2 separate regions of the Homo sapiens genome follow, and region 1 is linked to region 2. The links come from fine-mapping of genetic effects on gene expression. Tissue or cell type: transverse colon. Region 2 holds a variant in brackets; the other region holds the start of a gene. All regions are shown on one strand. Distances are between the middles of the regions.

Region 1 (5,147 bases), 90 kb after region 2:
GAAAGGGTTGGCATATTTTCACTGAATGAGAAAAAGTATGATTTTCATATTGTCTTTATTTGAACCTTAAGTATGATTTTACAAGGAGGAAAAAGGAGGAGGAAGAAGCAAAAGAAGAGGAAGAGGAGGAAAAAAAGAAGAGGAGGAAGATGTACATTGATGCCACTTTGAGAAGAAGTGGACTGTGGTGGATTTGTAATGTATCAGTTTTGCCAAGCTGAATGCACATTTCCCAGATTTGCCATCTTTAGATAGCTCTAGGTTAGCCTGGGCAACAGGAGACACTTGGAAGATAGAATTCGAGTGGCTGTTACACTCTTTTGTATACTGGGAAGGGCGTTGTTACAGCTCAGGCATGATCTTCAGCTTCCCTGACCCTTGGACTGGTGGGTGTTTTGCTTCTTGATCTAACATTAAGGTTAGAAGTTGCAGGATTCCAGCAGGGTTTTGTCACATCCAATCTGGTTTAAGTTCTCATATTATTAGGAAAGCTTTAGGGTGCTTCAGGAAAACGCTTTTTAAAAAATCAAATTTGGAAAATATCAAATGGAATTATAGGCAATAAGCATAACCCAGTGGAACCATGAATCAAACCCTCTAGAGCAGGGTTGTCTAAATTTTGGCTTCCTTGGGCCACACTGGAAAAAAAAAAAAGACACTTGTCTTGGGCCAAACATAATATACACTAATCGCAATTGAACTGTACCTGTAAAGCTTGTAAACAAAATGTGTCTGTAAAGTCTGTAAACAGGCCAGGTGCGGTGGCTCAGGCCTGTAATCCCAACATTTTGGGAGGCCGCGAGGCAGGCGGAAAACTTGAGGTCAGGAGTTCAAGACCAGGGTGGCCAACATGGTGAAACCCTGTCACTCTTTTTTTTTTTTTTTTTTTTTGAGACGGAGTCTCACTCTGTCGCCCAGGCTGGAGTGCAGTGGTGCGATCTCAGCTCACTGCAACCTCTGCCTCCCGGGTTCAAGCGATTCTCTTGCCTCAGCCTCCTGAGTAGCTGGGACTACAGGCACGTGCCACCACACCCGGCTAATTTTTTTTTTTTGTATTTTTATTAGAGATGGGGTTTCACTGTGTTAGCCAGGATGGTCTTGACCTCCTGACCTCATGATCCACCCGCTTCCGCCTCCCAAAGTGCTGGGATTACAGGCGCGAGCCAGTGCGCCCGGCCCGGTGAAACCATGTCTCTACTAAAAATTCAAAAAATTAGCCGGACCTAATTTTTTGGTTGCCTGAGCCTGTAATGCCAGTTACTCGGGAGGCTGAGTATTCTCTGGTTGAGGAAGGAGAATAGCTTGAACGCAGGAGGCAAAGGTTGCAGTAAGGCGAGATCGCGCCATACACTCCAGCGGACTGTTTGCTGTTAATCCCATAGGGAAAAGAAAAGCTTAGTTTTATTTCTATAGAACAACAACAAAAAAAGATAAGAGATTAGTAGAGACGGGTTCACTATATTTGCCCACACACGCCTGAGGTCGAGCGATATTAACATAAACATAACCTATCGACGTACCTCATAGATTGCTGGGATTACAAACGTGAGAACCACGATGTCCCAAATTTTTAGTTTCAGTGAAGTTACAGATGGGAACAAAGACCTGATTCTCAGCTTACGCTGACGCCCAGTATGCGTTTCTGCAGCAAACAAAACCTATTTTTAAAACGACAAAAATACAGGGGAAAGCGCGAATGCAGTCTACCACTGCCACAAATTATACAGTCAAGTTTCCCACATTTGGGGAAACTGCAGGGGTCAGCAGATCCGGAGTGCAATGGATAAGACTCGCTCTGGAAAAACCACCTTCGTGACCAGGGTATCTCTCCTGCCAGGTAAGTATGAGTTATTGCACCTCCGCCCCGCCGGCAGCCTCACACGCTTCACCCTTTACACGCACGGTCACTTGCCCCGCGCACACCCCCCTCCCCCCCAGCCCTCCTAGCCCTGACACACAGCTGGGACTCTCAGGTCCGACCAGCGGTCCTGAACCCGCTCCCACGGCACGGGAACTCCTTCGTGGCGAAGCAGCATGTGGCGAAGCAGCAGCCCCTGCGCTGGCTCATCTACATAGAAGTCGCCCTATCCGTGATGTCACCGACAGCGCCTTTCCCAGTCCCCGTCTGCCTTTCTGCCGCTCAGCCGACCAACCCGCTGCCGGAGCCGGCAAGGGGAAGTGACGTCTGCCTCTCCCTTTTTTCTCTCCTGCTTCCCTCATCTGTTCTCTTCCAAAGAAGCTGGTCCTTAGCCTGTATTGCGGAGCAAGCTTTCGGCGACCAGCTGGACCCTGGGCACCCTTCTTCGAACAATGGCTTTTAATTCTCAGACTAGAACGTTTAGGATTACAAAAGAAACTGGTTCTTTTCACATTCTTATTCTTGTGATGTAGCATTCCGCATATATATATATATATATATATATATATATATATATATGTATCCAACTATCCTAAAAGACACTACCCTTCATCATTCCATGCCATTAGACATGTATAGGACCATGCATGGTGATCTCCTCCAGACAAAAGTAAATGCTGGTGCAGAACAGGTAAGTGTACTATAATTTGAGTACATCAGCTTTTGGGCATTTTAAACCATGGGTCAGACAAGTTAGAGCAAGAGGGCAGGTTGATAGCAAGAGGGAGTGTTTTTCTTTTAATTTTCTTTTTTTTTGTTTTGAGACGGAGTCTCGCGCTCTTCGCTCAGGCTGGAGTGCAGTGGGGCTATCTCGGCTCACTGCAAGCTCCGCCTCCCGGGTTCACGCCATTCTCCTGCCTCAGCCTCCCCAGTAGCTGGGATTACAGGCACCTGCCACCACGTCCGGCTAATTTTTTGTATTTTTAGTAGAGATGGGGTTTCACTCTGTTAGCCAGGATGGTCTCGATCTCCTGACCTTGTGATCCGCCCACCTCGGCCTCCCAAAGTGCTGGGATTACAGGCGTGAGCCACCGCGCCCGGCTTCTTTTAATTTTCAAATAGCAAAGTGATGTTTGCCACTGTCATTTCAGAATGAGGTGACAATTTGTTGTTGTTTGGTTTTGTGGGGTTTTTTGTTTGTTTGTTTGTTTCTGAGACAAGGTCTCACTGTCGCCCAGGTTGGAGTACAGTGGCATGATCAGGGTTTACTTCTGCCTTGACCTCACGAATTCAAGCAAACCTCCTTACTAATCCTCCCAAGTAGCTGGGACTACAGGTGCATGACACCACACCCTGGGGTGTGAACTGGGATTTGATGTTTTCAGTTGGCTCCCTGATGGAATAGGTTCCCTTACTATTCTGGAATACAGATTGTCTTCATGATTATGATTCATAATCATAATGATTATGACAGCAGTCCCTGCTGTCAGGCAGGGACGTTTAAGTCTGCAGAAGCTGTCTGCTGCCTTTTATTCAGATATGCCCTGCCCCCAGAGGTGGAATCTAGAGGCAGTAGGCCTTGCTGAGCTGCAGTGGGCTCTACCCAGTTCGAGCTTCCCTACCACTTTATTTACACTGTGACCATAGAACCACATACTCAAGCCTCAGCAGTGGCAGAACCCCCTCCCCCTGCCATGCTCCAGTGTCACAGGTTGATCTCAGACTGCTGTGCTAGCAGCAGGCAAGGCTCCATGGGCATGGGACCTGCCGAGCCAGGCACAAGAGGGAATCTCCTGGTCTGTCGGTTGCAAAGACAGTGGAAAAAAGCACAGTATTTGGGCAGGGGTGTACTGCTTCTCGAGGTACAGTCACTCACAGCTTCCCTTGGCTAGGAAAAAGAAATCCCCCAACCCCTTGCACTTCCCGGGTGAGGCGACACCCCACCCTGCTTTGGCTCATCCTCCGTGGGCTGCATCCACTGTCCAACGAGTCCCAGTGAGATGAACCAGGTACCTCAGTTGGAAATGCAGAAATCACCTGTCTTCTGCGTCTATCTCACTTGAAGCTGTAGACCGGAGCTGTTCCTATTCAGCCATCTTGGAAGCAACCCTCTTTTTCTTTTTGTATTTTGGTAGAGACAGGGTTTCACCATATTGCCCAGGCTGGTTTCAAACTCCTGAGGTCAAGCCATTCTATAAAACAAACTTACATTTGTTTTATCTGAGTTCCTTCCTCAGGAAAGGACTCTCAGGCCTCTCAAAAAGCATCAGAGACCCGAAACTCAGCCAATCACAGCATCCAGACAATGAGATGCCAGTCCCCTCACTCATCACGAGTGCTTCCTCACCCCTCTCTAGTTCCTCTTTTCCCACACACAGTTAACTTTTCTTCTGCGCTATATAAACCCCTAACTTTAGTCAATCAGGGAGACAGATTTGAGACTCATCTCCTGTCTACTCAGCTGCAGCACCTGATTAAAGCCTTCTTCCTCAGCAATACTCAATGTCTCAATGATTGTCTTTCTGTGTGCTGAGAACACTGAAGCCCTGGGGTTTTGGTAAAAATACATGTACACTTTTAAAAACCGCAATTAATGGGTTGTGGTATATTGAGAAATTGGAGTGGCATCAACTTGGCCAATTCTGAGGAAACACACTGTGCTTAAGTGTGAGGGCCCTGCCTCCTGACCTCGACAGTTTATGGTTGATTTTGAGGCACAGCAGGGGAGTATGGCCTGGTTTGAGTGTTTTATAGAAATGTAAAACATGGCTGATTACTTTTTATTTTAAATCCAACAAATCTCCATTTCTGGTGAGAAAATCTTGCCAAAACCAACCAAACAAATGCGTAGAAGTATATGAAGAAGAAAATGAAAGATTCCCTGCCTCCCAATCCCACTTGCTTGGTGTCAGCCATTATTTATCACATGGAGGAAGGGGGCAAGACACACAGGAAGTCCCAAGTCCTGTTCTCACAATCATCTGGCCTCCCTGGGCAAAGGGAAAAGAGGGAAGGCAAAAAGAATATAACACTACTGTTTGCGGAAATTTCCCCTTGGTACAGGAAACTCTGGTAAACTGAGAGAGTATGTTTTCCAGAGGGAGGCCTCAAGGGCTCTTCTCTGGCCCTAAGCCCAAACTGGATTTTGCCTCATTTTCTGAGGTGCAAATGAAATGATAAAAGTTGATCAAAGGAGAGGGCAGAGAGAAAGAAAGAAAGAGGATGACTCCTCTCTCGCAGGTCCACCTTCCTTGGTGTTGCTTGAGGGATCAGAAGAAATGCCTTAACA
Region 2 (5,147 bases):
CAGGAGCAACGTCCCCGAGCCCCTCCGCTCCAGCAGCCCCGGACTCCGCCTCCTTCCGCTTAGCGGAGATACTGCCCCTGGCAGACTCTCCTGGGACTGGCGCGGAGAGGGAGCCGAGCCGGCTGGAGGGAGGGTCAACGGGGAGGCGCTGTATCGGCGGCGCTCCAGGGACAGGCGGCTGGACTCAGGCGAGTCAGGGCAAAGGTGTCCAGGGGTGTCCAGCTCCACTGGCTCCATGCGGCTCAGTTTCTGCCTCAGCCCTGAAGGGGGACCAGACTCCTGAGCTTCTGGTGCTGTGTTTCGGCGAGAGAGAGGACCCCCGCTAGTCACTTTCTCCGCCCATGGGGGCGGGTCCTCAGGGCCTTCGGTGCTGTGACGTCGGGAAAGACGGGGTCGACCGGTCAGGGTCAGGCCATTGAATTCGGCAGTCAAGCGCTCGATCCCCGGTCTCCCTTCAGTGGGTGGGACTGGTTGAGGAGGGGCCACTAGGCCCCAGGGCTCGGAGTTGAGCCTTTTGAGTGGTTTTGGGGGATGGCGTGGTGGTTTGGGGAGCGGCTCGGAAGGGGATGGGTCATCGGGGGGCTTAGGAAGAGGGAATTCAAATACGTCCCGCTTCTCCTCTTCTTCCTGGGCGCGAGGGGATAACATCCCACGCCCTCCTCCTCCAGCGGTCTGCAGTTGGATTTCCGAAGGCGACGTGCAGAACCCCGGGCTAGGAGAGGCGGGAGCAGGGTCCTCCACCCCTGGGGATGGTGGAGAATTGAGATACTGCCGGGTCTTCTTGGTGCCTGAGGGCGAGGTATCGGTGGTGATGATGATGACCTCCGTACCCTTGGCCTTGCAGGCGTCCAGCAGTGTGGCAAGGGTCTCGCGGTCCCCGCGGTCCAGGGCGTGGACAAGAGCCGAGGCGCCCGCGTGATCTCGGACTGAGGGGTCTGCGCCGTGGGCAAGGAGCAGCGAGGCCACCGCGGCGCCCCCACCCCCGGCGCAAGCGTGCATGAGCGCCGTGCGCCCTAATCGGTCTGCGATATTGGGGTCCGCGCCTTGCTCCAGGAGGTAGCGTACCATGCGTGCCTTGTTCTGGGGGTCGTCGTAGCGGGCCCGACAGGCTGCCATTAGCGCAGTCTCCCCCTGCGCATCACCCTCATTCACGTAGGCGCCTCCCTCCAGAAGCAAACGGGCCAAGCGTAGCTTACCCTGACCCACCGCCCGAAGAAGAGCGTGGCCCTCGGTGTGCAACATAGCTGCGGCTGGGGCGAGGGCACAGATGGAGCCGGGACTGAGACCTGCCGAGGATGACTAGGGGTATGGGGAGGGGGAGTGGCTGGCAGAGGCCTGAGGTCTCAGTGACGAAGCCGATCCCTGCAAGAGAGACATCTCATTGATAGATTCGGCAGGAAAACTGAGGCACAGATGCAGGGACCCAGCGTGGGGTGGAGGAGACCTTCACGGCATACAGTCCTTCCTCTAACTCATGCCTTTGAGCCGGCCCTTCCCCCGCAGCGCATGCCTGAGGAGGTGGGAAGGGTGCACCCGCACTGAAGGACTAGCGCGCGTGCAAATGCGTTCGTGCACGCGCAGGGATGTCCGCACCCCCACCCTCACCCCATGGCTTATCAGACCTTTCCTCTGTCCCCCTTGTCTTATCCACACTTGGGATCCCCCTTTCTAGGATGCTGAACGCCACCCACCCACATACATGCACCCTACAGTCACACATGTATTCTCATTCCTAACCTGTTTTAGCTTGCCACAACCCCAAAAATTGAGTGGGGGGAGGGAAGCAGCCTGCATTTGAGACCTAAAACGGGTGGAGGGAGAATTGGGGGGTTCTATTGCCCCTGCGATGTTCCCCATCACTCCTTGCTCTTTCCCCTCCCAGGCTGTGTGCCCAGATAGATACCTGAATGTCCGCAGAATCTCCGCCTGGCCAGGATTGGGGCCGTGGCCACGGGGCAGCCGAGGTGGCGGAGCCAGTTTCCTGGGGGCCCGCATGGCGTGGGGGGGGGGGCACCCGGATTCCCTTGGTGTCAGTATCTGCGCCCCGGCGCCGGATCCTGGTCCCTCCTCCCGGAGCGCCCCGGGCACAGCGCCGGCTCGGGAGGAGAGAAGCTTGGCGGGGGGGGGGGGGGGGGGGGGGGCGGAGCTCTGCTGTGCTATTTATAGCCTAGTCACTGCGGGTGGGGGCGTCAGGCACCAAACTGCTCCCCCACTCATGCACACATAAACCCTCAAAAACCTAGAGGCTCCAATCCTGACTTCCTTTTCTCAGCCGACCTCCCCTCAGCCCCAACAAACCTAAGTGTTCCTTAGGGGACTCCTCCGCGACCCAGACAGGGACCATCATCCAGATTCTTCGCTGAGATTCAGCAGATCCCCATTCTCCGCACTTGGTGTGTTTGTGCGCTCCTGTGCGCCAGACCTGACCTGCCATACACGGCACATGGCACACTGTGTAAGAAAGGTGTAGAAAGGCTTTTTGGATCCACAGCCGGTGTCCATACTGTGCAAAGAGAGGCAAGAGATGTGGCTTTCTTCCTGTAGTTTAATTGTGAAGGAGATCACGGTCCAGCCTG[G/C]AGTCAGACACAGATACACCCCCGCCCCATCTCTCAAAAACGGAACACCCATCGCAGAGAAACTTGGACCTCAGCTCCCTTATGTAGACCTCTTAGATAAGTATGAGGAAGGTGGATATGGGAGCACTTTTAGATAAGGCAAGGGACATTCCAGGTGCCTCCACCCCGTATTATTGTGGGCAGGGAGATAGGACAGGGGCAGGAAGAAGAGCGAACCTTGTAATACACTCTCTCACATTGCATCTCTTTAATCTCAGTCTTGCTTAGACGTCTTATTTTTTCCATCTTGCTTGACGATCTCTGTCTGAAACATTCCTTATATCTTCTCTCTTCCTATCTGTCTATTGGTCTCTCACACTGTCTCTGCCTCTCCTTGCCACCTGCCCTGTCTCCATGGTTACCATAGCTTCCATCCACATATTTTAGGAATGAGTTTGTGTCCAGCTGGAAGGCACCAAGGGAAGTGGGAGAAAAAGAAAAATCCTAAGGATTTAAAAAGTTCACTCAGGGTCCTGAGCTAATTCAGAGGCTGGAGGCCCCCCAGATGCAAGATACTGAAAATAATGTTCCCGGGGATGGGAGAGAGAGAGAAATATTTGCAGGAAGCTACCCATTTTTACTAGTTATTTCTTGGACACGTGTCAACTATGTGCCATGTGCTTTACATACACTATTTTCAATCCTCACAACTTTATAAGATAGGAACTATCATCTTCTTGTTACAGATGAGGAAACAGACTTAATAAGGTTAAGCAAGCTCTCCAAAGCTTCACAGCTATGTTTCTGTCCTATGGCAAAGACTGGGAGCTTGCCACTACACCTACAGCCTCCCAGTCTACAGGCCATTTTCTCTGACATCTGGGATGTTCTTCTTGACTAACTCCTAGATTTCATCTCCATTCTGAACCTTTCTCCCTTGTTTCTGCTTTCTGTGAAAATAGGACTCCTCCTTCCACTCTGCTGGCTTTCCCAAGGAGCTCGCAGGAAGTGGAAAGTAGTGGAAAATGCAGAAAAAGCTGGGCTCCTGCCCTGTCTCCCCAACCCTGGTACGCTGATCCCAAATCCTTCCTTTCTTGAACCCTCTGCCCACCTTCTCACAGACACGGCAGCAACCCACAGAAAAACATTTTTAGAAAAGAAGTATCCATTGGTGGTGCTGGAGAGAGGCAGTGTATGATTGAAAGGAAGGCTGGAGTAATGGAGAGACCAAGCTATGAAGCTAGAGTCACAAAAAGACTGATCCCTAAAGAGCAGCTTTTACAGAGGTTCATTTCTCCGTAGGCCCTCTCCTCCTTTGGCCTCTCTGTAGGGGCTCCCTCAACACGGTCCCTCGATGAGATATGAGTGTCACGTTCCCTCGGTGAACTCTCGCCGGCTAGTGGCTCCTTCATCTGGAGTGAGACCGGAAATAAGTGACCCCAGCTGATTCTGCAACGCCCATCTCTCTCTGCGACCCGCTTCGCAAGCTTCGGTTCCGGGCGTACTCGCTCCCTCCCTCCTTCTCTTCCTAGGCTTCAAGAGGGCGGACTTCCCTCCTCGGCTTCTCCTGCATTGGCCGAGAAAACTCACCAATAGGGAGCTCCGGGAGGCGGGCTTAGAACGCCACCGACTTGAGGAAGCCCAGTACATTTCAAGTTGGTCGCGGCTTGGGCTCCGCTTTGGGGAGGGGCAGCAGGTAAGGCTTGACCTGGTTCGGTCCGACACTTGCCAAACTTGTTCACCCCGGCCAGGCTGCGAAATAGACAACGCTTTCCGTCAGGTTGTTGGATCAGCCCCCTTCTGGCTCCCTACCGTTTCTCCCCTGGGCTTCCATTTCTGTATTGATTGTATACTAGAGAATGGCAGTTTTCTATCGCGCATGGGGAGAGACATTAAAGCAGAAAACGAGACAGCCTCTTGTATCTGTCTTTGCTATAGCATCAACTTCCCCCTAATCTATTAATATTATCCCAAGAGCCTGACAAACTCCTGTTATCTATGAAGACTAGCTGAAATGCTACCTGTAGTTTTCCTGGGCCGCCTTTCTTGCAAAATGAATTGTTCCCCCGTCTACGATAGCGTTTTGTATATACCTTTATTAGGACACTTAGTGCACTGTCTCTCTTTAACGTTTCTATGCCTTTTAGAATAGAAGGTTTTGTAGGACAGGTGCTAGTAGTTAATATATAGTGCCCAATAAACGTTAGTTAAATAGAATTGATTTCTGGTAACTAGCACTCTTTTTGGGGAGGCAGAATTTAAACTCCTAACATAACTAGGGAACAATAAAAGACAATACAGTATGTAATTAAGAGCCATTAAATTAGTGGTTCATAATATTAGTGTTTCATAATTGTTTCTACAATCTAGAGAAGGAAGAAAGCAAGGAGAACTGGAATGGTGAGGGGAGGCTTTATGGATCACAATTTCTCAAGTTTGGAAAGGCCCATAGAAATGATGTATTTATTCATTCAATAAATATTTATTGAGCACCTACTATATGCCAGACACAATGCTAAATCATGCTGATCATAGGGAATCCTCTACTAGAGCCATGCATCCTTCTTACAAACCCTATGTAGTAAATTTTTA

The links. PIP is the estimated chance that this variant, and not a neighbour inherited with it, causes the effect.
Region 1: it holds the start of LINC01719, and the variant in region 2 is fine-mapped to the expression of LINC01719 in transverse colon (GTEx, PIP 0.93).

What each region holds. Positions count from the first base shown.
Region 1 is chr1:146,050,400-146,055,546 of GRCh38, forward strand. It overlaps LINC01719 (long intergenic non-protein coding RNA 1719), which reads left to right and starts at 2,197. Exons shown (of 3, transcript NR_125968.1): 1 at 2,197-2,549. RNVU1-6 (RNA, variant U1 small nuclear 6) reads right to left here and starts at 1,845; the gene lies at 1,682-1,845. RefSeq lists enhancers at 1,055-1,783, 1,784-2,515 and a silencer at 1,695-1,934.
Region 2 is chr1:145,960,518-145,965,664 of GRCh38, forward strand. ANKRD34A (ankyrin repeat domain 34A) reads right to left here and starts at 4,058. Exons shown (of 4, transcript NM_001039888.4): 1 at 3,667-4,058; 2 at 2,793-3,020; 3 at 1,904-2,451; 4 at 1-1,362. The coding sequence starts at 1,242. It overlaps POLR3GL (RNA polymerase III subunit GL), which reads left to right and starts at 4,173. Exons shown (of 8, transcript NM_032305.3): 1 at 4,173-4,251. RefSeq lists enhancers at 1-51, 415-1,250, 452-501, 3,900-4,069 and a silencer at 3,290-3,584. The variant G/C (reference allele first, on the strand shown) is at 2,577.